2 separate regions of the Homo sapiens genome follow, and region 2 is linked to region 1. The links come from fine-mapping of genetic effects on gene expression. A gene starts in region 1. The other region holds a variant in brackets. All regions are shown on one strand. Distances are between the middles of the regions. Region 1 holds the start of SLK (STE20 like kinase). Region 2 overlaps STN1 (STN1 subunit of CST complex).

What was found.
Region 2: its variant is fine-mapped to the expression of SLK in cerebellum (GTEx, PIP 0.93).

What each region holds. Positions count from the first base shown.
Region 1 is chr10:103,959,509-103,975,861 of GRCh38, reverse strand. SLK (STE20 like kinase) reads right to left here and starts at 8,722. Exons shown (of 19, transcript NM_014720.4): 1 at 7,967-8,722. The coding sequence starts at 8,116. It overlaps LOC102724351 (a long non-coding RNA gene), which reads left to right and starts at 8,817. Exons shown (of 5, transcript XR_007062282.1): 1 at 8,817-10,081; 2 at 16,022-16,099. It also overlaps the pseudogene RN7SL524P. RefSeq lists enhancers at 3,850-4,349, 4,350-4,851 and silencers at 8,201-8,300, 8,311-8,360, 8,401-8,860.
Region 2 is chr10:103,866,280-103,882,632 of GRCh38, reverse strand. STN1 (STN1 subunit of CST complex) reads left to right here. Exons shown (of 10, transcript NM_024928.5): 10 at 1-5,064. Among named protein-coding and RNA genes, the nearest start is that of SH3PXD2A, 19 kb to the right of the region's middle. The variant G/A (reference allele first, on the strand shown) is at 6,854.

The DNA.
Region 1 (16,353 bases):
CTCAAGTGACCCTCCCACCTTGGCATCCCAAAGTGCTGGGATTACAGGCGTGAGCCCCTGCACCGGGCCGTGAATCATATTTTTAACATACAAAAAGTGAAAACAATCCAAATACTACAGAATGGATAAACTATAATATTTCATAAAATACCATAAAGCAAAGAAAAAGATCAAATTACTACTACATGCAACAACATGGATGAAACTCATTCATATAATGTTTGGCAAAAGAAGCCCAACACAAAGGAATATATTAAATGATTACAGGATTAAAAGAATCATGTAAATGATTATATGAAGCCCAAAAACATACCAATAAGACTGCAGTAGTCTAAGAGATGATAGCAGCTTTGACTAGTGAAATGACAGTGAAGAAAGAAAGAAGTATTTTTGAGAAATATTTAGTAGGTAGAATTAACAGGCCTTGGTGTTTAATTAGGTTTGGCGGGGAAGGCAGCAACAGGTGTTAAAAATGACCTCTAGGTCTCTGGCCTATGCAACTGGTAGATGGAAGTGGTAATTACTGAGTGGGAAGACAGAAGGAGCAAATTTGTGACTGACATCATGAGCTGAATTAGTTCATGTTTTGGACTTGCAGTTTAAGGTATCTGTGAGACATCCAAGCAGAAATCTCTAATAGACAGTTGGATGTGTGGATCTGGAGTTCAAAAGGGAGGTCTTAGGGTAAAGATAGAAATTGCACTTAGATGGTAATTGAAGCCATGGGAGAAGACCGGTTCTCTTAAGAAAAGGAGAAGGTGGCCTATACCCAAGCCCTGTGGAATTCCCACACCTTAAAGTCAGAAAGAGGAAGAACCAGCAAAGGAGTGTGACGAACAGACACAGAGGTGGAAGGAAAATCAAGAGTATGGTGACTTAAAAGCCAAAAGACGGGCCAGGTGAGATGGCTCACACCTGTAATCCCAGCACTTTGGGAGGCCGAGGCGGGTGGATCATGAGGTCAAGAGATCGCGACCATCCTGGCCAACATGGTGAAACCCTGTCTCTACTAAAAAAAAAAAAAAAAAAAAAAAATAGAAAAAATTAGCCGGGCGTGGTAGCAGGCACCTGTAGTCCCACCTACTCGGGAGGCTGAGGCAGGAGAATGGCGTGAACCCGGGAGGCAGAGCTTGCAGTGAGCCGAGATCGCGCCACTGCACTCCAGCCTGGGCGACAGAGCGAGACTCCATCTCAAAAAAAAAAAAAGGCCAAAAGATGAACTTTTTTTTTTTTTTTTTTTTTTTTTTGAGACGGAGTCTCGCTCTGTGGCCCAGGCGGGAGTGCAGTGGCGCAATCTCGGCTCACTGCAAGCTCCGCCTCCCGGGTTCACGCCATTCTCCTGCCTCAGCCTCCCGAGTAGCTGGGACTACAGGCGCCCGCCATCACGCCCGGCTAATTTTTTTTTTGTATTTTTAGTAGAGACGGGGTTTCACCGTGTTAGCCAGGATGGTCTCGATCTCCTGACCTCGTGATCCACCCGCCTCGGCCTCCCAAAGTGCTGGGATTACAAGCGTGAGCCACCGCGCCCGGCCAAGATGAACTTTTTAAAGGAAAGAATGGCCAAGTATCTCAAATGGTAATGACAGGTCAAGTAAGATGGTAAGTGTCCCCTGAATTTAGGGACATGAAGAATCTTAAGACCATGGCAAGAGTCATTATTGGGGGAAGTGGTGGGTGGAGGCTGTCAAATAAATAATACAAGAAAATGTCACAGAACTGAAGGACATAAGTCTTTGGATTGAAAGGACCAACCAAGAGCACAGCAAAACGAAAGAAGAAGAAAAGACCTATATCAAAGTACATCACCACGAACAGAGGATAAAAGAAAATCCTAAAGGCTATTAAGAGAAAAAGATGGCAAAGGATCCAGGAAGCCAAATGGCATCAGACATTCAACAGCAACTCTTGCAGCCAAAAGATAATGAATGGAAGAAAGTCTTCAAAACTAACAAATTCTAAATCTTAAAAATTCTTTAAAAACTTACTTTTGAACTAGAATTATATATATTAAGTTGTGACCTTATAATAAAGACATATTTAGACAGGCAAGTTCTTAAAAAATATGTTTTCCATGGATCCTTTCTCAGAAGGCTACTAAAGGTTGTACACAACAAAAACAAGGAGGAAATTCTAACAGGAAAAACAAAGTATTTAAAACATCCTTGAAGTAGTTTGTGTTCCCACTTCTAGGGAAAAAAACTGTAACTCATTATTAAGATAGTAAAAAAGACCTAAACAGAGATAAAACATGCACAGGTGGGAAGACTCAATATCAAAGAGAGGTTAATTTTTCCAAAACTGATTTATAAATTCAATGAAATCTCTCCAAAAAAACACAGATTTTTTGTGGCACTCAACCAGGCTAACTGGAAAATGTACATAGAAGCCCTAAGGGCCAACAATACTACTAAACTATGTTGAAGAAGCAGCAGAAATTTATTTTAATTCTTTCCTAATTAAGACAGTGGGATACTGGTATAGGAATAGACAAATAGATCAATGAAGAGAACGGAGAATGCAGAAACAGACACATGCTACATAACAGGGCACTGCAGAGCAGTGGGGAATTATTTTTCTTCCCAGCAAATAGTTCTGGGACAATTGTGTATCCATATGGGGAAAAAAATGAAACTGGACCCCTACCTCATACCATTTACAAACATCTATTCTAGGTAGATTATAGATCTAATTGTTAAAGAAAAGCAAAATCATAAAGCTTTTAGAAGATAATATAGAAGATTATCTTCATGATCACACATTAGGAAGAAATGTCTTAAACATAACACAAAAAGCATCAACTGTAAAGGAAAAAACTAACAAATTGGACCATGTTAAAGAATTCATAAAAAGACACTACAGTGAGAATGAAAAGACAGGTCTCAGAATGAGACTATATTAGCAATAACTATCACCAGCAAATGGTTAAAATTCAAAACACATATATTGTACACACACACAATCAACATACAAACAAAGACTTCAAGAGAAAAATGGATAAGAGACTTGAACACAAAAGAAGAAATTCAAATTACCAAAAACATATTAAAAGAATTACTTTTAGTAATCTGTGAAAGGTGAATTAAATGCACAATGAGAAATGTAACACATTATCAGCCTGTCAAAACTTTAAAATTCTGACAATATTAAATGTTAGCAAAGATGCAGAGCAAGGAAATTTTTTTTTTTTTTTGAGACGGAGTCTTGCTCTTTCGCCCAGGCTGGAGTGCAGTGGTGCGATCCCGGCTCACTGCAAGCTCCTCCTCCCGGGTTCACGCCATTCTCCTGCCTCAGCCTCCCGAGTAGCTGGGACTACAGGCTCCTGCCACCACGCCCGGCTAATTTTTTGTATTTTTAGTAGAGACGGGGTTTCACCGTGTTAGCCAGGATGGTCTCGATCTCCTGACTTCGTGATCCGCCCGCCTCGGCCTCCCAAAGTGCTGGGAATACAGGCATGAGCCACCGCGCCTGGCAGGGCAAGGAAATTCTTCAACTGCTGGTGGGAATGTAAACTTGTATAATTAGTTTGGCATCATCTGGTAAAATTAAAGATACACTACCCTATAACCTAGCAATTCCATTCCTGGATTAACTCTTAGTGAAACTCATGTATATGTGCAACTACCGTTTTGTGTAAGAGCCAAAAACTGGAAGCAACCAATATATCCATTAATTGTACAATAGTAAATAATTGGTGATATCATCATATAATAGAATACAATGCTACAACGAAAAAGAACTACAGCTCTATGTGATAAAGATGAACCTCACAAACACAATACTGACTTTGAAAGAGGCAAGACACAAAAGAATATGTTCAATATGATTCCATTCATATAAAGTTCAAGTGCATACAAAACTAAATTTATAACATTTAGGGATATAATCCTAGATAGTAAATGATTAAGAAAAGCAAATAAATGAATAACTTAAAGATAGGATAGTGGTTTCCTTTAGGGAGAGAGAAGATATTAGATACAGAAAGGAGGCAAGAGGGATTCTCGGATGTTAGCAGAATTCCTTGACACTGACAGTTGTTAATAATAATTCACTTTATTATCTGCTAAATGTATATGTTTCCATACTTTTTAATACAAAGATTATATATTTTACTATTTTTTAAAAGGCACACAGCCATCAGTTGTCATATAAAAACTACTTTCATCCAGCACACAGCCAAGAGTTTAGTTTCAACTGGTTTAATAGATAAAATAGCTTTCTAGAAATGCAATTCAATTCATAATCTTATGTCATTCTTTTTTTTCTGTTAAAAACAAGAGAAATCCAGCAGGGGGTGAGGGGCAGTGGCTCATGCCTCTAATCCCAACACTTTGGGAGGCCAAGGCAGGCGGATCACCTGAGGTCAGGAAAGACCACCCTGGCAAACATGGTGAAACCCCGTCTCTACTAAAAATACAAAAAATTAGCCCGGCACGGTGGTGCGTGCCTGTAATCCCAACTACTCCGGAGGCTGAGGCAGGAGAATTGCTTGAACCTGGGAGGCGGAGGTTGCAGTGAGCCGAGATTGCGCCACAGCACTGCAGCCTGGGCGACAGAGAGGGACTCCATCTCAAAACAAAACAAAACACAAACAAAACAACAACAACAAAAAAAGAGAAACCCAAAGATAAAATATTGTGAAGGATATTACATATCTTCATTTATATGTCAAATAATACTATTTTTAAAAGAGAAAATAAATTTAAAGTAGTGAAGCTTTTTCAGGCAAGGAAGTAACTGTTAAATGTGTACAGTGCTGGACTGAGTGGAAGGAATACAACAAGTACACGATGGAAGAATGACTCAGACTAAATACACAACATGATTACCTATAGGTTACACATCCCAAATCTGAAAATCTAATCTGAAATGCTCCAAAATCTGAAACTTTCTGAGTGCTAACATGACATGATGTTCAAAGGAAATGATCACTAGAGCATTTTCAATTTCAGATGTTCAATAACTAAGTATAATGCAAATATTCCAAAATCCAAAAAATTCCAAAATCCAAAACACTTCTGGTCCCAAGCATTTGGGAAATGGGATACTCAACCTCATCTCTATTTACAATATAATCTTTGTAACAGTTACTAATTTCTGTAAGCAAATGATAGTTAGAATCAAGTTTATAAACAGTTTTCTACTACATACTACTACGTACTATGTTAAGGTTCCATAGCTTTTTCTTCCAAATATAAGGAAGTTTATAAATCCTCAATTTCTATGGAATCTTGAAAAACAAAAACTTTTAGAAAAAAGAGGCCATAAGAAGACAGATAAGTTTTAATTTCAAATTTTATTTTTTAAAAAACTCATACCCTACTCCTTAGAAGCAGAGAGTAGTGAAATGAAAAAAGAAAAAATAGTGCCAGCCCGTGCTCTTCAAATATCATACTAAAATACAGTCATCAAGATCACAGAAATTCTCCTTGACACAATTTTATAGTGCTCAAATAACTACATGAAATAAGACTCTTGTTCTTCAGAAATTTTTCAATTAATGTCTCAGTACAGGAAGATAGATCACATTTTGCAGAAAGTGTCATGAAAGAATAACACAGGGCTTTAGTATCTCCACACAGTCTGCCCATGCCATTAGAAACCAACAAAATGGTTTATTATCTTCTTGGTTCCTTTCCCTATCTCATCCCAAAGTTTGCATCTATGAGCTCTAAATGTAATAACAGTAATTTCTACCATTTACTGAGCCCTTTCCATGTGCCTTATATTATCTTTTTCAATCCTCACACTGAGGATGTCTTATGGATGAGCAAAGTTAGGCACAGGACAAATAAGAAACTTGCTCAAGGTCATATGCTGCTATTGAGTGAGAGAGCTAAGTTATATTCCAACTCCAGAGCCAGTGCTCTTACTACTAAGCTGTTTATATTCGATAAAACTTATTTACACCATGAAAACTGCCCATAATCACCTACCACCTTCTAACTACAAGATTCTAGGTGCCTTGAGCATTTATTTTTGCCTTTCCAGGCTAATTACATACTCACAGAACTTTAATGGGTGAAAGAATCTAAACTCCTAAGAAAGTTAATATTATGGCTAAGAAAACGGAGGTCCAGAGAAGTTAAGTGTTTTGTCCAGGATTACAACGCTGGTTTGTGACAGCCAGCACTAAAACACAACTCTTGATTCCCAGGAGTGATCTTCCCACTACAATGAAGCCTTGCATCTTATGAAGCTCTTGCTGAAGCCCATACTCTACCCTCCACACAAATAACAAAGCTTATTTTGCCAACTTCCACAGCCTATGATAGCTTCCACGACAGCATTCATATGCAGACAAAACACATTCTTTCATTTCAACAAATAAACAGACACATCACTATACGCTAAGGCAGTGAATGAACCCAAATATGTATCATAATTTTGGCCCTTAATTTTATTATAGAAACATAAACATATTAATTGTAATAAGTGACAAGTGCTATAATAGCCATGTGAACAACGTGTTCTGAAAGCACACAGAGAGGAGTAGATATTTTAGCCTGGATAAAGAATGAGGACTGGGGTTTTGACAAGATGCATTTGAGGCAGGGCAGAGGCAGAAGTGTAATGGTGCTTAGAAAGTAGTAGGCAGCCGGGGACGGTGGCTCACGCCTGTAATCCTAGCACTTTGGGAGGCCGAGGCGGGCGGATCACCTGAGGTCGGGAGTTCAAGACCAGCCTGACCAACATGGAGAAACCCTGTCTCTACTAAAAATACAAAATTAGCCGGGCATGGTGGCGTATGCCTGTAAACCCAGCTACTACGGGAGGCTGAGGCAGGAGAATCGCTTGAACCCGGGAGGGGGAGGTTGCAGTGAGCCGAGATCGCGCTATTGCACTCCAGCCTGGGCAAAAGGGGCGAAACTCCGTCTCAAAAAAAAAAGAAAGTAGTAGGCAAAATGCTCTCATTTCTACCAGTGACTGTTAAAATAAAAAACAATACTAAATATGGGCTCAGAAGACCTGAGTTCAAGTCTAGGCTGAGACTCATGTGACTGTGAACAATTTCAATATCTTCATCTGTGAAATGTGGATACTAATACTGACCTGCCTACCTCACAAGATTTTTGTGGGGGCCAAATTATTTGAAAGTACTTAAAAACTTCAAAGTCCTGTATAAACATAAGTTATTTTCTTACGTTTTCACTTCTAGGCAACCCTGTGGGTCCTTCCCCTAAACGCTGTCTCATAAAAAATTCGCCCTTCAGGATGAAAATACTCCAATGACATCATTCATATGTTCCTTAGGAGATATTAAATAGTTAACATTAATGCCTTCAGGTTGAAACGCCAAGCCTCTTTCTATTGAAATAAATACATGCGTGTGTGTTTTTAACTGCTTAAGCGCTGATACTGACTTCTAGTCAATGCTTACCATAAATATATTTAAAACTAGTACCACATGAAGGTTTTTTGGAAATTTTGTCAGAAATTCCATTCTATTTTATAGTATGCTGTCAAGCAACTAACTCAAGAAGAGACTGCAAGTAGCAATCACTTTGATCCCAACTAGTTCTGTATTAGCTCTAGATACAACCAAATATATATACTGGACCCTAAAAACAGAACTGTTGGAGTACAAGCATGCACGCGAATGCAGTCAGTAGACAAATCCACTGCAAAGTGCAATGAGTTTCTCATTCTAAAATACTTGAAGGGCACAACCAGACCCCTCCTATAAATTAAAGAACACTCTCATTTCCTTTGAAGTTTGAAAGAGTAGACTTTATAACCCTGTCTCCTTTTCCAATCGCTCTTTAAACTCCATCCAGGCCCCATTTTGTTCCACCGTAAACCCGACTTCTTAGCTACTCCTTGGATGATCAGCCAAGTAAAGTTGCATCGAACCGTAACAGTCAAAAGAAGGACAGGATAAGGACCAGGGGAGCAGAAGTCCTCCCGCCACTCCAGGCCAGTGGCTGTTTTACCTTCGCAGTACAACTTCCCGTTTTCCCCCTCTTACCTTGTACACTTTCCCAAAGGCTCCGTCGCCCAGTTCTCCTATAATCTCCCAAAAGTCTTCGGGGTTCAGGTCCCTCTTCACGTGTTCGTACTGCTTCTTCTTCTTCTCGCTCCCCAACTTGAAGATCTTACGGAAATTGAAGAAGGACATTTTTCCTCCCAACACAGAGTTCCTTGCACTTAAGGACTAAAAACAATAAAAGGCAAAGTTTCTCTTCCCTGCTCTCCCGCGCGAGCCCGGCTGGCGGCGGCGGGCGCGGCGTCCCTCGGCCCCCGCAGCTCCGGCCGGGCGGTCCCGGGAGAAGGCGGGGCGGCGACCCGGGCTCCGGCCCGCGGTGGGGGTGCTGCGCGAGCGGCCCCTCCGCCGAGCCCGGCCCGCGAGCCGCGCGGTGGGCGCCTCGCCTCCGGCCCACCCTCCGGGAGCGGCACCTGCCCGCAAGCTCGCTCCCACCCGGCCTGATCCGACGGGTCCGAGCGGTCAGGACTCCCGCGGCGGCGGCTTAGGCCCGTGTCACGGCGAGTCTCCAGGGGCGGCGGCCACTCTGGGAGAGAGAAGCGGCCGGCGGCCTCGGAGGCGGGCAGTCGAGAAGCCGAGCCCTCCCGCCTCGGGCCGCGAGCCTAGGGTCTCCTCCGCCGCCGTCCGCTCCCGCGGCGCAAGGCCCGCGCGTCCCCTCGGGTCTGGGGCGCCGCCGCCGCCGCCTGTCTCCCTCCCCAGCCCACACAGCCTCGGCCTGGAGCGCGCGCCGACGCCGACTCCGTAGCGCGCCCGCGCGCTTTCCCGGCTGCGCGCCCGCCCGGTCACGCGCCCTGCTCACCGCGCGCTCGCGTGGGGGCGTCCCCTCTGGCCCCGCGCACGCGCGCTACGTCCCTCAGACTGGCTGCCCCCGAGGGTTCGCGTGAGCGGAGCACGGGGCTCGGGGTGCGGGGGGCTGGTGTGATGGACGCATTTGTTCTTCGGTCCCTGACGATTGTTTCTCATTTGCCCTCCAAGCCCCAAATCCTGTCAGTCCACGGCCTTGATGGAGCGGCCCCCGTGGGACGACCCTGTTGATTGTGCTAGCGGATGTTGTCTCCATTCTGGATCTGGGAAAAACTGTGGAGTGAAAGCCGGACCTGTTAGGGTTGGGACCTGAAAGCGGACTTTTTCGCTCTCAGACGGGCCCCAGGTACAGTGAGAGGGGAGTTTGTGTGGTGGTTGTGAGCTTGAGCTTTGGAGAGAGAGATCTGTGACCTTGGGCAGGTGACCTCTCCGAGCCTCGGTTTCCTCGCCGTAAAATGAAGATCCTAATAGTCCCTACCAGAAGGTTGTGAATGAGACAATAGATGGAAGCCCTTTGCGCGGCCCCTGCACCCGTAAACGCTCAATCTTAGTTCTTACTCTTGTTGTTTTAAGTGTGCAGGCAAGATAGACACAGATACATAAAAACTGTTTAAGACCACTTCTCTTTTTTTTCTTTCTTTCTTTTTTTTTTTTTTTTTTTTTTTTTGAGACGGAGTCTCGATCTGTCGCCCAGGCTGGAGTGCAGTGGCGCGAACTAGGCTCACCGCAAGCTCCGCCTCCCGGCTTCACGCTATTCTCCTGCCTCAGCCTCCCGAGTAGCTGGGACTACAGGCGCCCGCCACCACGCCCCGCTAATTTTTTTGTATTTTTAGTAGAGACGGGGTTTCACCGTGTTAGCCAGGATGGTCTCGATCTCCTGACCTCGTGATCCGCCCGCCTCGGCCTCCCAAAGTACTGGCGTGAGCCACCGCGCCGGGCCCCCACTTCTCAACTGATGACTGCGACACTCCCTTGAGGGTAAAACTAACTTCTGGCCACCTCCACAACTGTAAACCTGGTGTCACTCTTGGTGACTCCACCTCAGCTAAGGCCCCCACTTCCTGATCTGCCTCCAGCCCCCTTGGGCAGCACTCCCTGGTGGGGCAGTGTGGACGTTGGCTGGAATCCGTCAGGTGGTGACCTACCTTCCCCTCCTCCACCAGACGGGAGCTCTTTCAGGCCAGTGGTTTGTTGTTCATCAAGATATCCAAGTACCCGGCAACATTCCTGGCATATAATAGGAAGGCAGATCTGGTGAATGAATGAATGAATGGCGGTATCTGGAGCAGAGACAATGTATGTATATATTGCTATTTATATAATGTCTGCCCCCCCAGTCATTTTGCCCTTCAGCCCCAAAATGGCATAGCAAAACCCCCCTTCCAGTAAGACGCTTAAGATGATTCAATTCCTTGAGATCCTTCTATTTTTTTAAGTGTTATTGCAATATATTGATATACAATAAACTGTACATATTTAAAGTGTGCATTTGGTTTTTTTGCTAGTACTTGTTTGCTTTTTTTTAAAATTATACTTTAAGTTCTGGGATACACATGCAGAACGTGCAGGTTTGTTACATAGGTATACACGTGCCATGGTGGTTTGCTGCAAGTGTGCACTTTTATATGTTTTGACAAATGTATAGACCTGTGAAAACAATACTATAATTATTTGTAATTATTATCATTTATGGAGAAAATGAAATGCTTAAAAAATAAAATTAAATTAAAAGTACTATAATTCTACTATCCAGACACAACCATTGATAAGAACTTATATTTCAAAACAGGATTTTTTTGGTTGTGCATTAACTTTTTTCAACATGGTTGAGGTTGTATTACATAAAAAGGTTTGCATCCTGCACTTCGCATATTTCAATACAATTAATAATTGTTCTCTTCCATTATGAGATATTTAGATTATAATTCCTCTGTTTTTAATAAAATACGGATAAATATCTTTGTACACAAATCTTTTTCCACATATTTGATTATTTCCTTAGGATAAATTGCCAAAAGTAGATTTCGGTCAATGGGTATATGTCTGTTTCCTTATTTTGTTCTTTTCAAAATAGAAAAGACTTTACTATTTTGTCAATTAAAAGATAGTGTATTACTGGCTGGGTGGGGTGGCTCACACCTATAATCCCAGGCTGAGGTGGGAGGATTTCTTGAGCCCAGGAATTTGAGACCAGACTGGGCAACATGGCGAGATCACATCTACCAAAAATTAAAAACAGAAAAATTAGCTGGGCATGGTGGCACTCACCTGTGGTCTCAGCTACTGGGGAGGCTGAGGCAGGAGGATCACTTGGGCCCAAGAGGATGAGGCTGCAGTGAGCCATGTTTGTGCCACTGCACGTCAGCCTGGGCAACAGAGCTAGAACTTGTCTCGAAGAAAAAATAAAAATGAAAGATAGTATATTTTTGTTGTAAATAATTCAAATAATACAGAAATTATAAACTAGGAAGCTGTCTATAGTTCTGTCCTCCTTCCTTCCCCCCTACTCATAGTTACCCTCGACCTAACCACTGTTAAAAGTTAAGCCTGTGATGATGGATATGTTTATGTAATAGGCAGTGGTGATGTACAGTTATCACCCAGCTCATCTAGTTATATACATTAAGTATGAGCAGCTTATTGTATGTCAATCATAATTCAATAAGTGGTTTTTAAAAAGTCACTAGCAAAGCAAAGATAAAGTTCTGACACCATTAAGAAATAGAAATAGGCTGGGCACGGGGGCTCACACCTGTAATCCCAGCAATTTGAGAGGCTGAGGTGGGTGGATCACCTCAGGTCAGGAGTTTGAGATGAGCATGGCCAACATGGCAATACCCCGTCTCTAACAAAAATACAAAAATTAGCCGGGTGTGGTGTCATGCATCTGTAATCCCAGCTACTCGGGAGGCTGAGGCAGGAGAATCGCTTGAACCTGGGAGGCGGAGGTTGCAGTGACCTGAGATCGTGCCACTGCACTTCACCTGGGCGACAGAGCTAGACCCTGTCTCAAAAAAAAAAAAAAAGAAATAGAAATATTATCATAAATTTTTTCATATATTATGAAAAAAAGAAATGGAAATGAGCCTCTTGTAAAAGCTTTTCCTTTTAATAACATAATACATGGCCAAATAAAAAAAGTTAAGCCCATGAGCATGAGAGAATTTTGGGGGACAATAAAAAAGGGTTTTATAACTAGATTATGGTGATGATTTTACACTTAGAATGGGTGAATTATATGCTTTGTAAATTATACCTCAATAAAGCTACTTTGAAAAAGTTAGGCCTATATATGTTTTTTTCTGTGTGTATGTATGTGTATGTGTGTATATATATATATATATAAATATATATATATATATATTTTTTAAGATGAAGTTTCCGTCTGTCGCCAAGGCTGGAGTGCAGTGGTGTGATCTCGGCTCACTGCAACCTCCACCACCTGGGTTCAAGCAATTCTCCTCCTCAGCCTCTTGAGTAGCTGGGATCACAGGCGCACACCACCAAGCCCGGCTAATTTTTTGTATTTTTAGTAGAGACAGGGTTTTGCCATGTTGGCCAGGCTGGCCCTAAACTCCTGACCTCAAGTATTCTGCCCACCTCGGCCTCCCGAAGTGCTGGGATTACAGGTGTTAGCCACTGCACCTGGCCGCATGTATATCTGTTAAGATATAAAACTGGCATCATCCAATACAGATCGTTGACATCTTTCCAAGCCATCCCAAATAGATCTGTCTAATCCTTTTTTAATAGCTGCACAGAGTTCTAGTGTCTAACTATACCATAATTTATTTAAGCATTTCTGTATTGACAGGCATGACAGGCATCTAGGTAGTTTCCAATTTTTTTGTCATCATAAACAATTCCACAGTTAGTGTGCATATACAAGCATCTTTGTGTATTTGTCTGATTATATTCCCTGAAGACACAATTCAAGAAGTGGAATTGATGAGTCAAAGATCATATTAAAAATGTTTTTGCTCTGTATTGCCTAACTGGCCTCTAAAAAGATTGGTGGCCAAACATGGTGGCTCATGCCTCTAATCTCAGCGCTTTGGGAGACTGAGCCAGCAGGTTTGCTTGAGCCCAGGAGTTCCAGACCAGCCTGGGCAATATAGTGAGACCCTCATTTCTACAAAAAATAAAAAAATTAGCCAAACATGGTGGCTCATACCTGTAGTCCCAGCTACATGAGAGACTGAGACGGGAGGGAGGATCACTTGAGCCCAGGAGGTCAAGGCTGCAGTGAGACACGATCGTGCCACTGCACATGAGCCTGGGTGACCGAGCAAGGCCCTGTCTCAAAAAGAAAAAAAGAAAAAGAAAAATGTTGACATATGAGAGTGTCAAATTTCACCACACCCTCAATAGCAACAAGGTATTATCCATCTTTTTTTTTTTTTTTTTTTTTTTGAGGCAGAGTCTTGCTCTGTCACCCAGGCTGGAGTGCAGTGGTATGATCTCGGCTCACTGCAACCTCCACCTCCTGGGTTCAAGCAATTCTCCTGCCTCAGCCTCCCAAGCAGCTTGGATTACAGGCGCCTGCCACCACAACTGGCTAATTTTTTGTATTTTCAGTAGAGACAGGGTTTCACTATGTTGGCCAGGCTGGTCTCGAACTCCTGACCTCAAGTGATCTGCCCACCTCGGCCTCCCAAAGAGCTGGGATTACAGGCATGAGCCACCGCACCTGGCCTATCCATTAATCTTTACCAAGCTAATAGCCCCAAAATAACTTATCTTAATTTAGAATTATCTGATTATTAATGATGTAATACTTTTCCATTTGTATATTGGCCACTTTTATTTCTTATTTTATGAATTGCCTAATCATATCAACGAATAATATCAAATAATGTTTGTCAGTATTCTATAAATGACATGAGCAAGTCTAACATACTTTGATGAAATGATCACAGAGTTAATAATAGCTTATATATTTTCACCATGAAGTTATAGCCACAGAAATTACTTAGTAACACTGGGTGTGATGTCATTTAGTCAGATCAGATATTCCCAGTGAAGGCCATGACATGTAGATGTTTGTGTTATTTATAAATGATAATTTGGCTTTCCTGAATTTTTAGAACTTTAAAAGTAAAGATGAAGCAGCGATCATGTATTCATTTTTTAAAAAATTTTTTTGGATTATACTTTGGTATGCAAATAAATTCATTTAATACATAATTTTTGGCTCTACCCACCTTAAAAATAGTTTAATATTTTCTCACTAAGCAGCTTGGTGAGAGGAATACTATCTTCACAATTTACCTGGTAAATAATCTTCTCTGGTAATAATAAGGATATCATCACAAACTGGAAATTTAGGCTGGGCACGGTGGCTCATACCTGTAATCCAAGCACTTTGGGTGGCCTAGGCAGGAGGATCGTTTGAGGCCGGGAGTTTAAGACCAGCCTGGGCAATATGGCAAGACCTCGTCTCTACAAAAATAAAATTAGCTGGGTGTGATGTTATGCACCAGCTACTCGGGAGCTTGAGGCCAGGAGTTTGAGGCTGCAGCGGGCTATGATAGCACCACTGCACTCCAGCTTGGACAACACAGAGACCCTATCTCTAAATAAATAAATAAATAAATGGAAATTTAGTACATTGTGCTTAGTGGTTTACATGCATCATCTCATTTAAACCTCATGGCAACCTCATGAAATAGGTACTATGATAATCCCTATGTAAAAGAGAGGAAACTAAGGCAGTGAGTTATGTAACTTGGTTATGGCCTCACGGGTAGTAATGGCAGATTTTCACTTGAATCCAGATCTCGGAAAACCTAACTCTCCAGTATTTAACAACTCCACTAAGACGGTCTACTTAGCCTCCTTGAGATTTTGCCATAGTCGTCTCACAGGATCGTTGCCAATGCTATGTCTTTCTCCTTCCTCTAAATTGAAAACATTCTACTCACTGTCTCCACTTTGTCAGCTCAGCTCCCACGTATGTATGTATGTATGCATGTGAGTGTGTATATGTGGATATATATGTATATATGTGTTCATATGTTAATACATATGTGTGTATATGTGTGAGTGTATAGTACTGAGGGTGTATGCATGTGTGAGCATGCATGTACATATTGTGTGAACGTGTGTATGTGTACGAATATGTGTGTATGGGTATGTGTGAATGTGTTTGTATGTGAGCGTGTATATATCTGCATATGTATGGGAGGCTGTGTATGTTTCTCCTAGACGGAAAGCATTTAGAGGGCAGGGACAGTCATGCTCATCCTTGTACCTCCTACATCTAGCCCAGTGTCTTCCTATTCCATACATTATTGTTGAATGAATAAATGAAAATGATAAAACTTTACACCTAGTGAAAGAAATTACATGTCAATTCCTTTCCCCTTCCTTATTTAGACAATAAATTTACTAGTTAGTTCTTTAAATGCTATTGTGTAGATTAGATGGAAGTAGCAAATTCCTTTGATATACAAGTATTCTGTGACGTAAATACAGTTTTCTGTCCCTGTGGAGTTATATTTTTAGAAAGGAATTTTTTAGATATTTTAAGAAGGTAACTAACCTGTGATTATGACAATTATTCTCCTGAAATAGAATTGTGTGTCATTCAGAAAATTCCAAATCAGGTTTTGGGTCTCTCTTTTTTCTATTTTGAAAACAAGAAAAAGTAAACAAGTCACCTGATTTAAGCTCTTTTTTATTTCATAAAAGGAATCGAAAAATATCCTCCCTTCTAATTCATTTCTCTTTCTGCGTCATACAGAACTGTTACACACACATACTCCCACCTTCTCCTCATCCCTAGTAACTTCTGCTAAAATGAATCATAAACATTTGGCAGTGCGATGAGAAGGCTTAATGCATCCAAATCTTGGGAAATTAGAAAATAAAAACTAGATAGACATCCTTCTTTTACAAGTGGTACTCCAATTCCAGTTTAAAAATCTAGACTCCCTAACATCTTTTGAACTTTAAGTATTTGAATGGTCAATATTAAATGTGTTTCACTCAGACACTGACTAAATGAGAGTAACCCAACCACAGCATCATCTGGCAACCGACACTTTGGGCTTGATAAAAGCCTCTGTGCTACCCCATTGCCCCCTACTTTTATGTATTACATTTGTTCTTTGTTTCATGAGACATATTTTGGATATGATCATTTTGATCATTAGCTCCAAATTATTTGTCCTCTTGTTAACCCTGTGACATTGGGCAAGTCACTAACTTCTCTGCACTTTGTGTCTTACACAGGAATTTCATGTTTAACAGAGGTGTCTTCAAGGAGATGAAACAATTCAGAATGACCTAGGCAATGGGGTAATTCCTAAGGTAAGTTACTATAAATGTGTAGTAGTTTGCTTCATCAAAATGACCATGTGATCTCTAAGAACCTTTGCAGTTGTAAAATTCGATTTTTATTGTGCCCCTAATTTTAGTGGCATTATATGGTGATTGTGTTCATTTTTCTGACATAATGGTGAATGAAGAGCAAATAAGTGCAGTTAGGAATTTCAAAAAGAAGGACATACAGTATCCATCAAAATTCATGGAGAACACTATTTCCACTGAACACTGTTCTTGGG
Region 2 (16,353 bases), 93 kb after region 1:
CCCAGGCTCTGACTTTCAGCATCATGCAGGGGCTTATCTGTCTGGAGGCAGTTACCTCATAATAAACTATAAAATATAGTCATCTTGGGAATGGGATTTGGCATAAATGTTGTTGGCTCCCTTCTGTCCACTATGTCCTTGGTGTACAATGACTTTGATCTCAGCCATGACACAACAAGAAAACCCTCCCTGTTGAGCTCCTGGCTGGACTGTGCGTTGTTCGCAGAGCAGAATGGGGAGGAAACAGTGTTGGCAGCTTAACTGATGTGTGTGGTTGGAGTCTCTTCCATGGCAAAGGGACACCACAGGGTAGTGAACATTCAGGAACTGAGGGGCATATGGCCTGATCACACAGTTCTAAGCTTTTCAAAACTTCAGGTTATCAGAGACCTTCCTGTGGGCCTCTCTTGCTGGCTAAGAACCGGTTTAGGGGAGTAGTTCTCCCTGGATGAGTGCTTACAGTTTCTGTGGCTCAGTTACCAGCAGTGGGGTTGAGACCTGGGTCGATGCTCTTTACAGGCCTGCCCAGAGATGGGAATAAACAGGGATCCACAGCGTGACTATGTGTTTGTCATTTTCCTTTTATTTCCTTGGGAATCGAAAGGTGTCCCAGTACATTTCCCTGCACTTACAGAGGTGCATGACTAAATACATTGTCCCTCGATGCCCCTGAAGATCACGGAGGCAGTCAGCCAATTGCCTGGCAGGTGGTAGATGTTATTTTCAGGGTTGCCGCTGAGTGTGCAGGATGTGCTGACACCATCCAGACAAAGACTCGGTATGTGCCCAGACAGGTGATGGAGTCATGCTTTTGCTCAGAATGACAAGGTAAAGGAAAAACATCTGAGGTATGTTGTAGGCCTGTTCTGACAGCAAAATGACAAATCCAGCCAGCAAAAATAAAGTGTGGAGAAAGATTTGGAGTTAATTACAGTCATTTCACAGAAGGCACTGCCTTCGTCTGCTGCATTTGCTCTTGATGTGATAAGCTCTTCGTGGCTCAGCTGGAGATCCTTTAGGCCTGGAGAGTTGCTCCTCTCTCCGTGGAAACAGGACAGTCTTTATACGCAGAAGTCCGCTGCAGCTCGATACGTCAGGCTGAGAGCTAGAACCAGTAGATTGCCTCCTGTCATAGACTTTTGTAATGATGCAAACCTTTGCTGATTTCTAACAGTGATTATGTAGTGGCTGCCCTGCATCTTCTCTGTGTACAGAAGGGTCCCTAGCATAGAGTCTGCCTGGAATGATGTCCTGGGCAGTTCTTCCTTGAGGTCAGCAGCTGTTCCACGTTGAATGCATCTGATTAGTGGGGCTGCCCAGGAAGGAGTTCAGAATCAGAAGGTAAAAAGGGCATACCCTTGCCTATAGCAACTCTGCTCTTAGGGGTTTATCTCAAGGAGATGGCTACACAAGTGTGAAAGGATGGTTGCACAAGGTGTTCATTGCTGTATAATCTAGAATTCTATATTGGGGAAAATACCTATAGGGAAAAAGTTAATTACGGTTCTTGGGCACAATGAAATACTATGCAGCTATGAAAAAAATGATGAAAGCAGACAGACAGTGTTGCCATGGCACACTGTCCCTAGTAGATTTAGTGGGAAGTAGATAGAGTTATAGATCTGTTTCTATAGTATAACACCATTATCTACAGCTCCCTGTGTGTATGTATATATCCGTAGAGAGAGTGTATATTTCTGCATGGAGGTCTTTATAAATGTAGCACATGTACATATATATATATATACACACACACAGTCGACCACTCCCTTCTCCTGGAAGTACTTTCCGCGTTTGGCTTTCAGGACACCAAGCTCTCTGGTTGCTCCTTCTCAGGTTCCTTTGTTCAGTGCTCTGCCTCCCTGAGGACTCAGTCCCAGACCTCTTTTCTATCTGGCTTGCTCACTGGGGTGTCTCCAGCAGCCACATGGATTATACCATCTACATGCTGTCTAACACCTCAGTTTAAACCCAGAATGGGCCTCTTCCCTGAACTGCAGACCCCTATATTCAGTTTGCTACTGACATCTCCACTTAGGTCTCTAATGGACATCTCAGATTTCACAGGCCCAAAGCCAGGCTCCCAATTACTCCTGACCCCAGGCTTGCTCCTGATAGTGACATGAGGCAGCCAAATGCCTAGGCAGAGAGGGGAGGGTCCCAAATGAAACCCCACGTTCAAGCAAAGATCAGCCTGAAGGCTAAAAGACCAGATTGCTGGTCCTGGATGAAACCCACCACGCAGAGTGGGAACTTCTGTTCCTGTTTGCCCACCCTTTCCCAATTGTTCTTTCTGAATAACGCCTTAACCAATCGAATGTTGCCTTTTCCAGTAATACCTACAGCCTGCCCCTCCCCCCATTCTGAGCCCATAAAAAGACCCAGACTCCCCCATATTAAGGGGACTTTCCTGCCTTTGGGTAGGGGGACCACCCCCACGTCTCCTCTCTGTTGAAAACTGTTTCATCACTCAATAAAACTCCCAGCTTTGCTCACTCTTCCACTGTCAGCACATTCTCATTCTTCTTTGGTGCTGGGCAAGAACTCAACCAGTGTGGAAGCCATACTTGGCCCAGGCGGGTGAAGTGGGCGGGCCGTCTCCTGCAGCAGGTAGCATGGTCAAGCGAGGCCCAGGTGGGCCGTCACCAGCCAGAGGTCCCTGGCTTGCAAAGTGACCGAGAAAAAAATCCTGTGCCACTCCTTTGGAAAATGTCCCTGATTCAGGAAGAGGTAGCTCCATCCAGTTGCTCAAACCAAATCCATTGGCTTCTTTCTTTCTATCATACCTCACATCCAATCTGTCTGCAAGTCTTTTGGCTCTACCTTCAGAATATCTCCAGAATCTTAACTGCTTCACCCTCCTCCCCGGCCTCCTCAGTCCTCTCTGCTTCCGCCCTGGCCCCTCTTGGGCTGTTCACAGCACAGCAGCTGTTGCCACCCTGTTAATGCTCCCACTCTCCTACAGCCTTCGGTCTTGCCCCAGGTAGGAGCCTGAGGCTGCACAGAGGTCAGCACGGCCCCGCTTACCCTGCCCTCCCAGCCCAGCCGCACGGGCCTTGCACACATGCCTCGGCATATTCCTGCCTTAGGGCTGGTGCTCCTGCTATTTCCTCTTCCCAGGTAACCATGTGAAGTGCCTCCCTCTGCCCTCTTTCCAGCCTTTACTTGAGTGTCACCTTCTCAGTGAGGCCTGCCCTCATTCCTCTTTCGCTGTTTGCAACCCATCTCCTGTCCCCCTTCCCAGAACTCCCTTTCCTACTTCGTTTTTCTTCACAGTACTTGATACTGCCTAACACACTCCATGGTTTCTTACTTGCCCTGTTTATTATTTTCCCCCAATAGACAGAATGTTCCATGATGGCAGAATTCTCTGTTTTGTTTCCTTCCATGTCCCCAGCACCTAGAACAGTGCCTGACGCATCTCCTAAGCAATACGACCAATAAGTATGTGTCTGGCTGCCTTCCGGCTGCCAGTGTCTGCCTCTTTCCTAGGGGCAGTGGTTGCGGGGGTGCTTTCTCACATGTCTTAGTAGGCTGTGCAGGCTGGAAGTGCTCAGAAGTCACACCCCCAGGGAGCAGCCTCAGCCAACAGCACCTTGGCTGTAAATGCCCCAGCTCCCTCGCCCTCAGGTAAGCATTGCTGAGGCACACGTTCCATACTCTTTTCCACAGTTCCTCCGTGGGACTGAGCACCACCCAGCCACCCACAGGAGCAGCTAACCTGATAACCACCAGCCTCACCCTCCCTGCCTTACTTCCCCGCTCCCCTTTACCACATGCTGACCTCCCAGATGCATTTCTTGCTTTCCGGTCTCTGTCTCAGGATTGGCTCCTGGATGAACACAAACTAACACTATGTTCACAAATATATTTGGGAAATGCTGGATGAATAATTATACACATCAGACAGATTACTAGAAATTCTCACCAAAGGGATGCACATGTTACCTCTGCATGGTGAGATCTCAGGTGCTTTTTACCCCACATAGCTATCCTTTGGCATTTTTATAATTAGCAAGTGCTCACTCTTCCACTGTCAGTACATTCTCATTCTTCTTGGGCGCTGGACAAGAATTCAACCGGTGTGTAAGCCAGACTCGGCCCGGGCAGTCTCAAACTCCTGACTCCTTATATAATTTCTACAAAAATTATAAAGCTATTTCCCACTCCCCACCCCACATTCATGTAACCTGAAGCATGAGTAAACCAAGAATGAGGTAGGCCTCTGTCTTCTAAGCAACATCAGAACTCTAAGAACATGAGGGACTCTTAGAAAACTCTCTGGAGCTAACCACAGCTGGGTCACTGCTCATGTACTGAAGACCAGCCAGAGGGTTCCCCTGAAAAGGAGGGAAACTGAGCAAACATTCTCCAGTTCTCTTAGTGTGCACATGTTTCAGGAGGTGTGAACCCCACATGTAGCTTGTGTAGGCAAGAAGACAAATAGTGCTACTGTCTGGTCAAGGATTTGTTTGAAGAGCCATGATTATGCCCATATGGTAAGCCACCAGTGCTCCCCATCCCTGTAAGACACTTCTTTCTCATTATTTTCTCCTCTGATGGTGTGCCAGGATGCTGGCCAAGAGAAGCCAAGTGGAAAGAAGGCTGTTCAGTGACAAGGAACCTAAGACTTAGTGCCAAGGACTGAAACCAAGTAAACTTGTAATTTTCCATGATGGAAACATCTACACTTTCTCATTAGTGGCCTCTACAGCAGTTGCCCCAAAGAAGCGTCTCATTGTTTTTTTACTACATTTATGTGAAGCATACAGGCAAACTCAGAAAGACTGTGATAAGGCTCGCCAGAGATGCCTGCACAGGTGCTGGGGGAAAAGCAGGACCATCCTGAAGGGAGATGGTGTCTGTGGACAAAGAACTCTGCAGTGGTTCTTATTTGCATGATTTCTGCTGGTGGAGGCTGTAAATGTGAGCTCAAACTCCCACATAAGTGAGTTTTCATTGTAATCCAGAATGTTTTTAAATCACCCTACTTCTATTGAACTTGCACTATCATCTGTTAACCTCTACTGTATTTATTAAATAAACCTGAATAGGTAAATCACAGTACAGCAAAAGGTTCTGTGTTCCCCAGAATTCTAATCAAACTCCAAATTCCTGAAAAGGCTCTAGTCCTTTCCTATATGTCAAATTTAAATGATAAGTTTTCATTTTGGAACATAAAGAGGGATTTTGAAGACCACAGCATAGCCCTGGGTTTTTGCATAGAGATAATAAACAGACAATCTCTTTTCAGACTGATTTGAGAAAATGTCAGTGTGAATTGGTGAAAAATCTGGGTTGGAAATAGTGCTGTTGTATTACTTCAGGTCTACCCAATGGTCTTTATTAAACCTGAAATACCACGAAGGAACAGGTTTCTGCTCTTAGGGAATTTGCTTTAATAAGAATTAATTGTGTACCAGTTATTAGTATCATTTGATTATTATGTATTTATCATTTAATATTTAGGTGATGTAAAAGTACTTCAACGCAAGAGAATTGAAAACATGGCCACACAAACACTTGTAAGCAAATGTTCACAGCAGCATTATTCCTAATAACCAAAAAGTAGCAACAACCCAAATGTCCATCAGCCAATTAATGGATAAACAAAAGGTGGGCTATCCATACAATGCAATATTACTCAATGAAGTACTGATATATGCTAAAGCATGGTGAACCTTGAAGAAATTAAGTGCAAGAAGCTAGACACAAAAGGCCACATATTGTATGATTCCATTTATATAAAATGTCCAGAAAATAGGCACATACACAGAGAAGAAGTAGATGAGGCTGGGTGCAGTGGCTCACGCCTGTAATCCCAGCACTTTCAAAGGCCAAGGTGGGCAGATCACCTGAGGTCAGGAGTTCAAGACCAACCTGGCCATGGCTAAACCCTGTATCAACTAAAAAGTACAAAAGTTAGCCAGGCGTGCTGGTGGGCACCTGTAATTCCAGCTACTCGGGAGACTGAGGCAGGGAGAATTGCTTGAACCCGGGAGGCAGAGGTTGCAGTGAGCCAAGGTCATGCTACTGAACTCCAGCCTGGGTGACAAAGCGAGACTCTGTCTCAAAAAAAAAAAGTAGATGGTGTGGCCAGGCATGGGGAGGGTGGGGATTGGGTGGTACAGGGCTCCTTTTGGGGTTAATGGACGTGTTCTGGAATTAGATAGTGGTGATGTGTGCACGACTCTGTGAACAGACTCAGAATTATGGGCTAGGTTGGGATTCCTCACATCATGGTGTCTGGGTTTCCAGGGCAGGCTTTCCAAGAGATAGCAAGATAGCAAGAGCCACACGGAAGCCACATGGCCCTTTTTCTGTAGCCCCAGAAGCCACAGCCTCACTTCCATGGCCTTCTAATTGTTGAGGCTATCACAGTCCCATGCAGGTTCGAGAGGAGAGGAATAAACTCCACCTCTTGATGGGGAGTAATGAGGTTCCAGAAGGGCATATAGGTCCGGGAATATTACCCTGGCCACATTGGAAAATACAGTCTCTCACAGATATCTTTCAGCTTTTATATAAATACAGCATCATTATTTAAAGAGCTAGTCTTAAAAATACCAAAAAAGTACAAAGAAGGGGAAAGAATGGTCTACCACTTCCCAAATACCGTGTGTATGTATGTGTGTATATATATGTGTATATACATATCTCTCTCTATATATATAAGTATGTGTGTATATATGTGTGTGTGTGTGTGTGTGTATATATATTTAGGTGATGTATGTATACATACATATAGAGAGAGAGAGAGAGAGAGAGAGAGACGGAGTTTTACTCTTGTTGCCCAGGCTGGAGTGCAGTGGCATGATCTCGCCTCACCGCAACCTCCACCTCCCGGCTTCAA[G/A]CAATTCTCCTGCCTCGGCCTCCCGAGTAGCTGGGATTTCAGGCATGTGCCACCATGCCCGGCTAATTTTGTGTTTTTAGTAGAGATGGGGTTTCTCTATGTTGGTCAGGCTGGTCTCGAACTCCCGACCTCAGGTGATCGGCCCGCCTCAGCCTCCCAAAGTGCTGGGATTACAGGTGTGAGCCACTGTGCCCAGCTTACTGTGTATATTTTTAAGATTATATATATATTGTTAGGAAAATAACCATGTTAACAATATTTTTGTGTATCCTTCCAAAAAAAAGTCAGCGTTTTATATGCACTTCACATTTTTATTAATGCTATATTTTGGAAGTCTTTTTTTCTTTTTCACTTTAGCATGCAAAATCAGCATCTTTTAAAATGGTGACATAATTCCATCGTATTGCTGTTCCATAATGCACTTAGCCAGGGCCCTATTAAAAAACATTTAATTGGTTTCCAATTTGTTGCTATTGCAACCAATTCTGCAGGAAACATTTTTCTTTTCTTGGTATATGTTTAAAGTATGTTTGTATGGTAAATTTCTAGCAATGGAACTGCCAGGAAAAGGGGCATGAGCTTTTTAAAATTTGCATAGGCACTAACAAATTACCCAGTAAAAAGACTGATCCATCGTACACTCCTATCAATGATTTATGCGTCTACTGTTTACCCACGAGCTCACCCACAGTTTGTATTATCAGTATTTTTAGTCCATGTCCATCTGATAGGTGAAAATGATTTCTGGTTTCTGTTTGCATTTATGTTTTTTTAGTATGAGTAGTGTTGAGCATCTGTTCATCATGGGAGCCTTTAGATAAAGTTCTACCCTGGACAGTAGCCATTGCTTCCAGCAGGGGCTACAGACGGCCAGGCATGTGTTCTAGCAGTGGTATCTACTGCGGAACCAGCCCAGAGCGCAGCTGCCAAGGTGCCAGTTAATACACAGCTGGAATAAACATCCGGAAGAACTCAAAACTCAAAATTCCAAACCTGCCACTCCAAGTGCTTGGTCACATGCCCACCCAAATATTAAAAATAATAATGTGTTACAACAATGATGGTTTTATTTATTTTTCTTTTTTCTATATCACAAGTCATCAAGCAAAGAAAGGACAGCAATCTTTTTAAAACCAGCCACCATATTATTGACTCAGACCTCTCATAGACCAGATGCCATTTAGCTCTGGTTCAGTGACACTGTCCCCAGTCAGATTAATGTGAAAAACTAAGGATGCTTCTAAGAAAGTGCTAATTAAGTGGAGAAGGTAGTTTTAGTAATAGAAGTGGTCTTACAGCAGCTGCCATTGACTCAACATAGCTTAATTATCATCATAAGCTGAGGCTTCACTTTCATCATTTACTGGGTTTGGTACAGTTAATTGGGGCATTGGGCAACACCATTTTTGATCATCCTCTTGGCTAGAAATTGCTCCCTCGGGGAGGAAGGCATTTATTTTTTATTCTGAGGACAATCTGTGATTGAAGGAAATAAAGCAGGGTGAGGACAGAGTAGTAGCCTTCAGTTCTTCAGCTCTGCTTTAGAGCAAAGCAGCAGCGGGGTGCATGAGCTCTGATGTGGGACACAGGCATTTGTGACAAGGGCTGAATGTTACCCTGTACTGAAATTGTGAATGATTATTCTAATATGAGTTAGGTGGCAGAATAATATATTGAGCTATTGATGTGGGTTTTGTTTTTCCTGTATTTTATTTCTTCTTTCCAAGCTGGAAGCTAGCCTTGCCTCAGGGAGGTTTGGCTTGGGGGCTGAATTCAGAAGTTGTTTGCGCAGACTCTCTGGTTTTTTTTTTGGTTTTGTTTGAGACAAGAGTCTCGCTCTGTCACCCAGGCTGAAGTGCAGTGGCGCAATCTCGGCTCATTGCTTGAACTCCTGGGTTCAAGCGATTCTCCTGCCTCAGCCTTTCAAGTAGCTGGGATTACAGGCGTGTGCCACCATGCTCGCCTAATTTTTGTATTTTTAGTAGAGACGGGGTTTTGCCATGTTGGCCAGGCTGGTCTTGAACTCCTGACCTCAGGTGATCCGCCCACCTCGGCCTCTCAAAGTGCTGGGATTATAGGCCTGAGCCACTGCGCCTGGCCTGACAATCTGCTTTATGTTTTCTGGAAGCCCGAAGCCTGGGGAAGGATTGGAGATTGGTGGCCCCCAGGCATCGCGGATGGGAATGTGCTCCCTGTGACAGTCTCATGGCAGGACTTCTGTGGAGAGGTTTTGTGGTGTCTCTCAGAAGGTCAGAGCCTTAGCCTAGGATTCTCAGCTTCAGCAAGATTCCTGTGTGTCAGCTTGGAAAGGAAGCGGCCACAAGCCCTTCCCTGAAGGTGCATGCAGGCTGGAGCCCCGGGGATTTCCACAGCGGTCTTGGTCTCAGAAGAAGAGTGGACCTGTCCCTGTTTTTCAGGTACCCTGTAACCTCCTGGATTTTCACATATTTCCAGGGAAGGGAAGCCTGCCCCATCCTGTTACCACACATCTAATTTTCATGCCAGGCTCGAGGTTGAGGGCATCAAGGCTGAGGTAACTTGAAATAAAGAAAAAAAGGGACCAGGCATGGTGGCTCATGCCTGTAATCCCAGCACTTTGGAAGGCCAAGGCGGGCGGATCACGAAGTCAAGAGATCGAGTCCATCCTGGCCAACACGGTGAAACCCCATCTCTACTAAAAATACAAAAATTAGCTGGGCATGGTGGCACCCGCCTGTAGTCCCAGCTACTTGGGAGGCTGAGGCAGGAGAATCGCTTGAACCCAAGGAGGCGGAGGTTGCAGTGAGCTGCGATCGCGCTGCTGCACTCCAGCCTGGTGACAGAGCAAGACTCTGTCTCAAAAAAATAAAGAGAAAGAAAAAAAGGACTATGACAAGTCTCACCCACCTGCGTTTTGGTAGTAAGATTCATACTGCACCACAATTAGAATAACATTCAAGGTGAACGTTAAGGTCGTGCTCCCCATGCCCTTCCCTGCCAGAATGCTCTCGAGTGAGGGAGAAGGGGAGGACGTCACCGTACAGTTACAGGGACATTGCCTATGGCCCTCCCTCGGGAGTGTGCTGTGACAGGAACCACCTGTCCTGCATCACTGCTGACACAGGATTGGACATCACTGCCTCCGAGGATGGAGGAGAGATATGTAAGATCTTGTTGCAATTCCTCAGTGGGGTCCACCTCATCATGAATGAAAATGCCACCTTGTCCCACAACCATGACACCTGTTGCCAGAGGGGAAGAGCGACCTGTGAACACAGGCCCTGTTCCTGCCAGGCTGTGTGGGAGCAAGCAGGGGACTCAGGAGAGTGAGCAAATAGAATCTATTCTAGGAGATTCCAAAACCACCTGAGCAATGAGTCTTCTCCCAACATGAAGAAGCTTGAATGCCTTACTCATCGCAGCAGCTGGCCCAGCCCTGCCCTGCCCAGCCCAGTGCCTCAGGAAGAGTCAGCAAGCTCTGCCTGTGCCTGTGGTTTTGGTCCTGTCCTGGCTTGACTTGTCCTGGTGGAGGGCGAGACCCAGAAGCTCCGCTCCTGGGAATGACAGCTGGCGAGGAGGTACTGGTCTCAGCACTCTGCCACAGCTTAGGCCGTCAGCACGAGCAGATGCCCCATTAGGGGGCCTGAGAACTGAGAACGGGGACTGTAATCTGCTATTTCTGTCCATTTGTTGTTGACCCAGGTAACCAGGAAATATGGGAAGCAGGCAGATTCTGGTTGTTTCCACAGGAGTTGAGACTTAACCAGACAACTAACTCTCCTGAGTGTTCCCTCTTGGGTGGGCACACCACAGTTCACCCCGTAGTCTGTGGTAGACTCAGCATTAGACACAGTGCTGGTGCTTAAGAAAAGTTTCCATGAACAGGCAGTGTGCTTATTGAGTGCCAGCTGTGTGCAAGGTATCGTCCCAGGTACCGAAGAGGATTCCAGGACAAAGTTTCCTGTCTTCAGGGAACTGTCAGTCAAGTGGATCAAAAGACACATGCCTGTGTGATCTACAACCCAGCGGATCATAAGGCACATGCCTGTGTTTTCTTTGACCCTCAGAGGAACAAAAGTGTTTTTATTTGACCCTCAGGGTTTTAAAACTTTATACCAACATTTAAAAATTGGCTACCATCTATATGGAAAAAAAGGCAGTGTGTGCTTGTGTATGTGTATGTTTGTAGGGTGTGTGTGTGTGTGCGTGTAAGGCAGCACTGCAGAAGAACCCGGCCACAGTGATGGCCTCTTCAAATAGGGAATCGGGGAGCAGGAATGGGTGAGAGACTTGTTGCAATGTTTTATAATTTTTTTAAATGTAAAATGTAATAACTTTACAAATAAAAAAGGATTGGGGAATTCACATAAAAATCCAGGTATTTGGCTATTCTTGACAATGCAGAAGCTCTAGCAGGACTGGGGAACATTTCATCTGGAAACGGGTTGGGGGAGGTCAGTATTAAAGGATTTTCAGCTGAGAGGGGGCATCAGGTTTGTATTTTAGAAAGTACCTTAGCAGCAGAGTGGAGGAGCACAGCTTGAGGGCGAAGTCAGGGGCGGGTAGACCAGAGAGACACGTCTGCTGCCGTCATCCAGGGAGGGGTGGGGAGGGCCTGAACCGGACAGTGGCAAGGGACATTAGTGTAAGAGAACCAACAGGTAGGTAACCAATTTGGGGGAGAGTGGAAAAGGCCAGGTGAACTGCCAGGTTCTGCAAGGCAGACCACAGTAACGGCTACAGGATTTTTAAATTAATGGGAGGGGAAAAGGGGGCTCAGGAGATTTCTGGGGGTCTGAACTGGTGATAGCAGAAATGCTAAAGGAATACATCTCCTGAAATGTGAGGGAAAACCCACAGAGAAAATGGGCTTTCATGAGTAATTGGCTCCTCTACCCCTTTCCAGGCTCCGAGAGCGTTTCACGGGTTTACCAGAGAAAATGGCCTCCGGAGACTGCAACGTGAGAGAACTGGAATTTCAGACAGAAATTGAATGCATGTGGCTTAAAAGACAAGGAAGCACCAAGTGAAAAGTAGTCGAAATCATATTCCTTCAGGGGATGAATTTTTTTGGATCTGTGTTCATCCTTTATGGCTTTATTAGTCATTGCGAAAGCCCTTTTGGGGTTGCAAAGCTGCCAGCAGGGTGCTGTTCCTGGAGGATTACCTTGAGCAAGAAGCCCCAGAAAGCAGCCCAGGCAGGCATGTCAGCAGGGAGGCTGTCCTGGCAGCATGCTGTCCAAGGGGAGAGGCCAACGCTCTACCCCTGAGGTTTGAGGCCAGAGGAAAAGAACCAACCTGGAGATTCTGCAATTCTGTTTTCTCTTAAGGTTGCTTTGGCCGTTTAGGGTTTTTCATGAAGGACAGAAACAGATCCATTCCTTGAAGGCAGAAAGAAGTTTGTACTGCCCCGCACTTGACAATGTTTAATTACATTTGCCACTTGAATCAGAGTTGAAAATATCTTCCTTTTTTTCTGTTTGAGAGTCTTGCTGTGCATCCCTCAGGCTGGCTGGAGTGCGGTGGCATGATATCGGCTCACTGCAACCTCCGCCTCCTGGCTGCTGGGTTCAAGCGATTCTCCTGCCTCACCCTTCTAAGTAGCTAGGACTACAGGAGCACACCACCATGTCCAGCTAGTTTTTGTGGAAATGGGGTTTCACCATGTTGGCCAAGCTGGTCTCAAACTCCTGACCTCAAGTGATCTGCCCACCTCAGCCTCCCAAAGTGCTGGGATTATAGGCATGAGCCACCACACCCAGCCGAAAATATCTTCCCTTTGAGACTTGGTGGCCAGCTGTTGATTTCATACTGGTGTGGCCTCAGACAATCTATGATGTAAGAAAGATAGTTAAAGTAAAATCAACCCAGTATTAATTACTTAATAATAACTAATGAACAGTTATGCACCAATAACTCAGCAAATTTAAATCTACCCGTAAGCCCAACTAGGTAGATACTGTCGTCATTCCCAATTTACAGGTGAAGAAATAGAAGCTGAGAAACTAACTTTCCCAGGGGCATATATTTAGTAAACTGGAAAACCCAGGCTTCTACCCAGTGAGTTCAACCACTAGGCTTTAATTGCTTTCAGGATCAGAGAAGTCTGTTCTCTGGTAGCTTTAAACTATGAACCCAATACAGAGTGTCTTCAAATTTGGGTTGATATATAAACGTTATTTTTCCCACAGTTGAGGCTGCACCGAGGACACACTTCTGGTGATGAATGGCATATGAGGGTGCTGGGCTGAGTGGGTGGGGTGACATCACATCACACCCGTGACAAAGAGGGAGCAGGTATTTACTGAAGATACAGGAGCCCTGGGTCAGGGCAGTAAGCATTCGTACATAAACAACTGTGCAGTCCCACAGGGAGACCAAGAGAATGGTGCAGTAGCCTCTGAGGAGTTTTATTTGGTTCATGCAGTGTTGGTCTTTCCAGGCTTTATTTTTTTAATGTTAAAAAATAGTTGATTTTAATTATGAAATATTTCAAACACACAGAAAACAATAAAGCAGATACCTAGTATCACTGAGATGAAACAGCTGTTAATATTTTCTCCTGACTGGGCGAGGTAGCTCACACCTGTAATCTCAGCACTTTGGGAGGCCAAAGCAGGAGGATTGCTGGAGCCCAGGAGTTCAAGACCAGCCTGGGCAACATAGTGATATCTCGTCTCTACTAAAAATTTAAAAAATTAGCCAGGCGGCGTGGTGGCATGCTCCTGTAGTCCCAGCTACTTGGGAGGCTGAAGTGGGAGGATCGCTTGAGCCTGGGAGGTCAAGGCTGTAGTGAGCTATGACTGTGCCACTGCACTCCAGCCTGTGCAACAGAGCAAGACCCTGTCTCAAAAAAGAAAGAAAGAAAGAAATCCCCCTATATGCTTCAGCCCTCTATCTCTTTGAAGAAATATGTTAGAAATACACATAAGGCCAACCCTGTTCCTTTCCTGCCTCTGCCCCCAGAGGTAATAACTGTCATGTGTATCATTCCCATGCAGATTTTTTTTCTTTTTTATTGTGGCATAACTTACAAGTGGTAAGTCGTACAAATTTTAATGATACAGTTTGATGAATGTTTGCTTATGCTATACCTGGATGATGAATTTTTACATGTGTATACACCTAAAACAAGGTAGAGGTCCAAATATTGAACATGTCCAGCACCACCTCAGAGAGCTCCTTTGCTTCACATTATTTCAAAAATAAGCAGATGGAGGTGCCAACATTTGAAAGTTTTAAAATCTAGAGATTTAATATAAAAATTCAAATTTCTGGCTCTTGAAGTTTTGGAAAATATGACCACATTAAGCCCACATTCTAGCATGGGGACAGAGTGGCAACTGCCCACTGTAGACACAGCATGAGTGCCTCAATTTGCATACTATGCCTGCCATGCCGTGTGGGTATATCCAGCCCACTGCATTCACTTACAGAAACTGAAAGGTGCCACTCTATTTGTAAAATTTCAAAAGTGCCACAAAAAATGTAGAGAACAATTACCTTAGCTATCTTTAGGAAGGCAGAGTTTGAGAAAAAGTGTCCTCCTCCCCACCTGCTAATGACTTAGGAAGCTGCTGACAATGTCATAAAATAAAAAGGAATCAGATTCTCTAGGTCCATGCTACTCAAAGTGTGGTCCTCGAATCAGCAGCATCCAGGAGCTTGTTAGAAATGCAGAAAGCTCAGTGCCTTCCCACCCACATGTATGAGTTTGCTAGGGCTGCCATAACTAAGTATCACACAGTGGACGGCTTATACAACAGAAAGGTATTTTCTCACAGTTCTGGAGGCCAGAAGTCCAAGATCAAGGTGTCAGCAGGGTTTGTTTCTTCTGAGGCCTCTCTCCTGGGCTTGTGGATGGCTGCCTTCTCCGTATGTCTTCACATGGTCTTCCCTCTGCATCTGTCCTCAGCTCCTCTTTTTTTTTTTTTTTTTTTTGAGACGGAGTCTCACTCTTGTCACTCAGGCTGAAGCGCAGTGGCATGATCTCAGCTCACTGTAACCTCTGCCTCCTGGATTCAAGCGATTCTCCTGCCTCAGCCTCCTGAGTAGCTGGGATTACAGGCACCCGCCACCACACCTGGCTAATTTTTGTACTTTTAGTAGAGACAGGGTTTCGTCATGTTGGCCAGGCTGGTCTTGAACTCCTGACCTCAGGTGATCCACCTGCCTCGGCCTCCCAAAGTGCTGGGATTACAGCCGTGAGCCACCACGCCCGGCCTCATCTCCTCTTCTTATAAGCACACCAGTCCTATTGGATTAGGACCTACTCTTATGACCTCATTTAACCTTAATTACCTCTTTAAAGACCCTGTCTCCAAATACATTCACATTCTGAGATAGGGGGATTATGATTTCAACATACGAATTTTGAGGGGTATGACCAGGCACGGTGGCTCACGTATGAAATCCCAGCACTTTGGGAGGCCAAGGTGGGCAGATTGCTTGAGCTCAGGAGGTCAAGACCAGCCTGGGCAACATGGCAAAACCCCATCTTTACAAAAATACGAAAAATTAACTGGGCGTGGTGGTGTGCATCTATGGTCCCGGCTACTCAGGAGGCTGAGGTGGCAGAATTACTTGAGCCCAGGAGGTGGAGGTTGCAGCGAGCCGAGATCCTGCCACTGCACTCCAGCCTGGGCAACAGAGCCAGATCCTGTCTCAAAAAAAAAAAAAAAAAGTGAGGGGTAGACACAGTTTGGCCCATGACACCTACTAAATCAGGATTTATATTTTAACAAGACCCCCAAGGGACTTGTGTGCACATTAAAGTTGGAGAAGGGCCAGGCACTGTGGCTTATGCCTGGAATCCCAGTACTTTGGGAGCCCAAGACAGAAGGATTGCTTGATCCCAGAAGTTCAAGACCAGCCTGGGCAACATAGTGAGACCCCATTTCTAAAAGAAAAAAGAAAATTAGCTGTGTGTAGTGGTGCATGCCTGTGGTCCCAGCTACTCAGGAGACTGAGGCAGGATAATCACTTGAGCCCAGGAAGCCGAGGCTACAGTGCGCCGAGATCGTACCACGGCACTCCAGCCTAGGTGAAAGAGGAAGACCCTGTCTCAAAAAACAAACAAACAAACAAAAAGTTGGAGAAGCTTGGTCCAGGTCTGCTCCCTGGTAAATAAAACACTAGTGGGTCCGACTAGGAATGGGGAGGAGAAAAAGGAGAGGCTGCAATGATTTAGTTAGATGAACTTTCTCTCCAGTCCATAGGTCTTAGAGGCTGGAAATACTGGGAAACTTGAGGCCAATTCCCTCCTGAGTGGGAGTCCCTGCTTCTCGTTGAGGAGCAGGGACCCTCTGCACTTTGGGGCATGTGAGCAGGTTAACAGGTAAGGATTGATGAACCAAGTGGATATGAATCAGCCCATAGGAGCTAAGAGGAGCCTCCTTCTGAAAATAGGTTGGAATGCTGGAAATGTGGCTGCTTTTAGCAAAAAGCTCATTTTTACCTAATCACCATCTGTAGATTTCCTCTTTTAAGGTGCAAAGCAAGTCTCTTGGATTTCCTGGAAT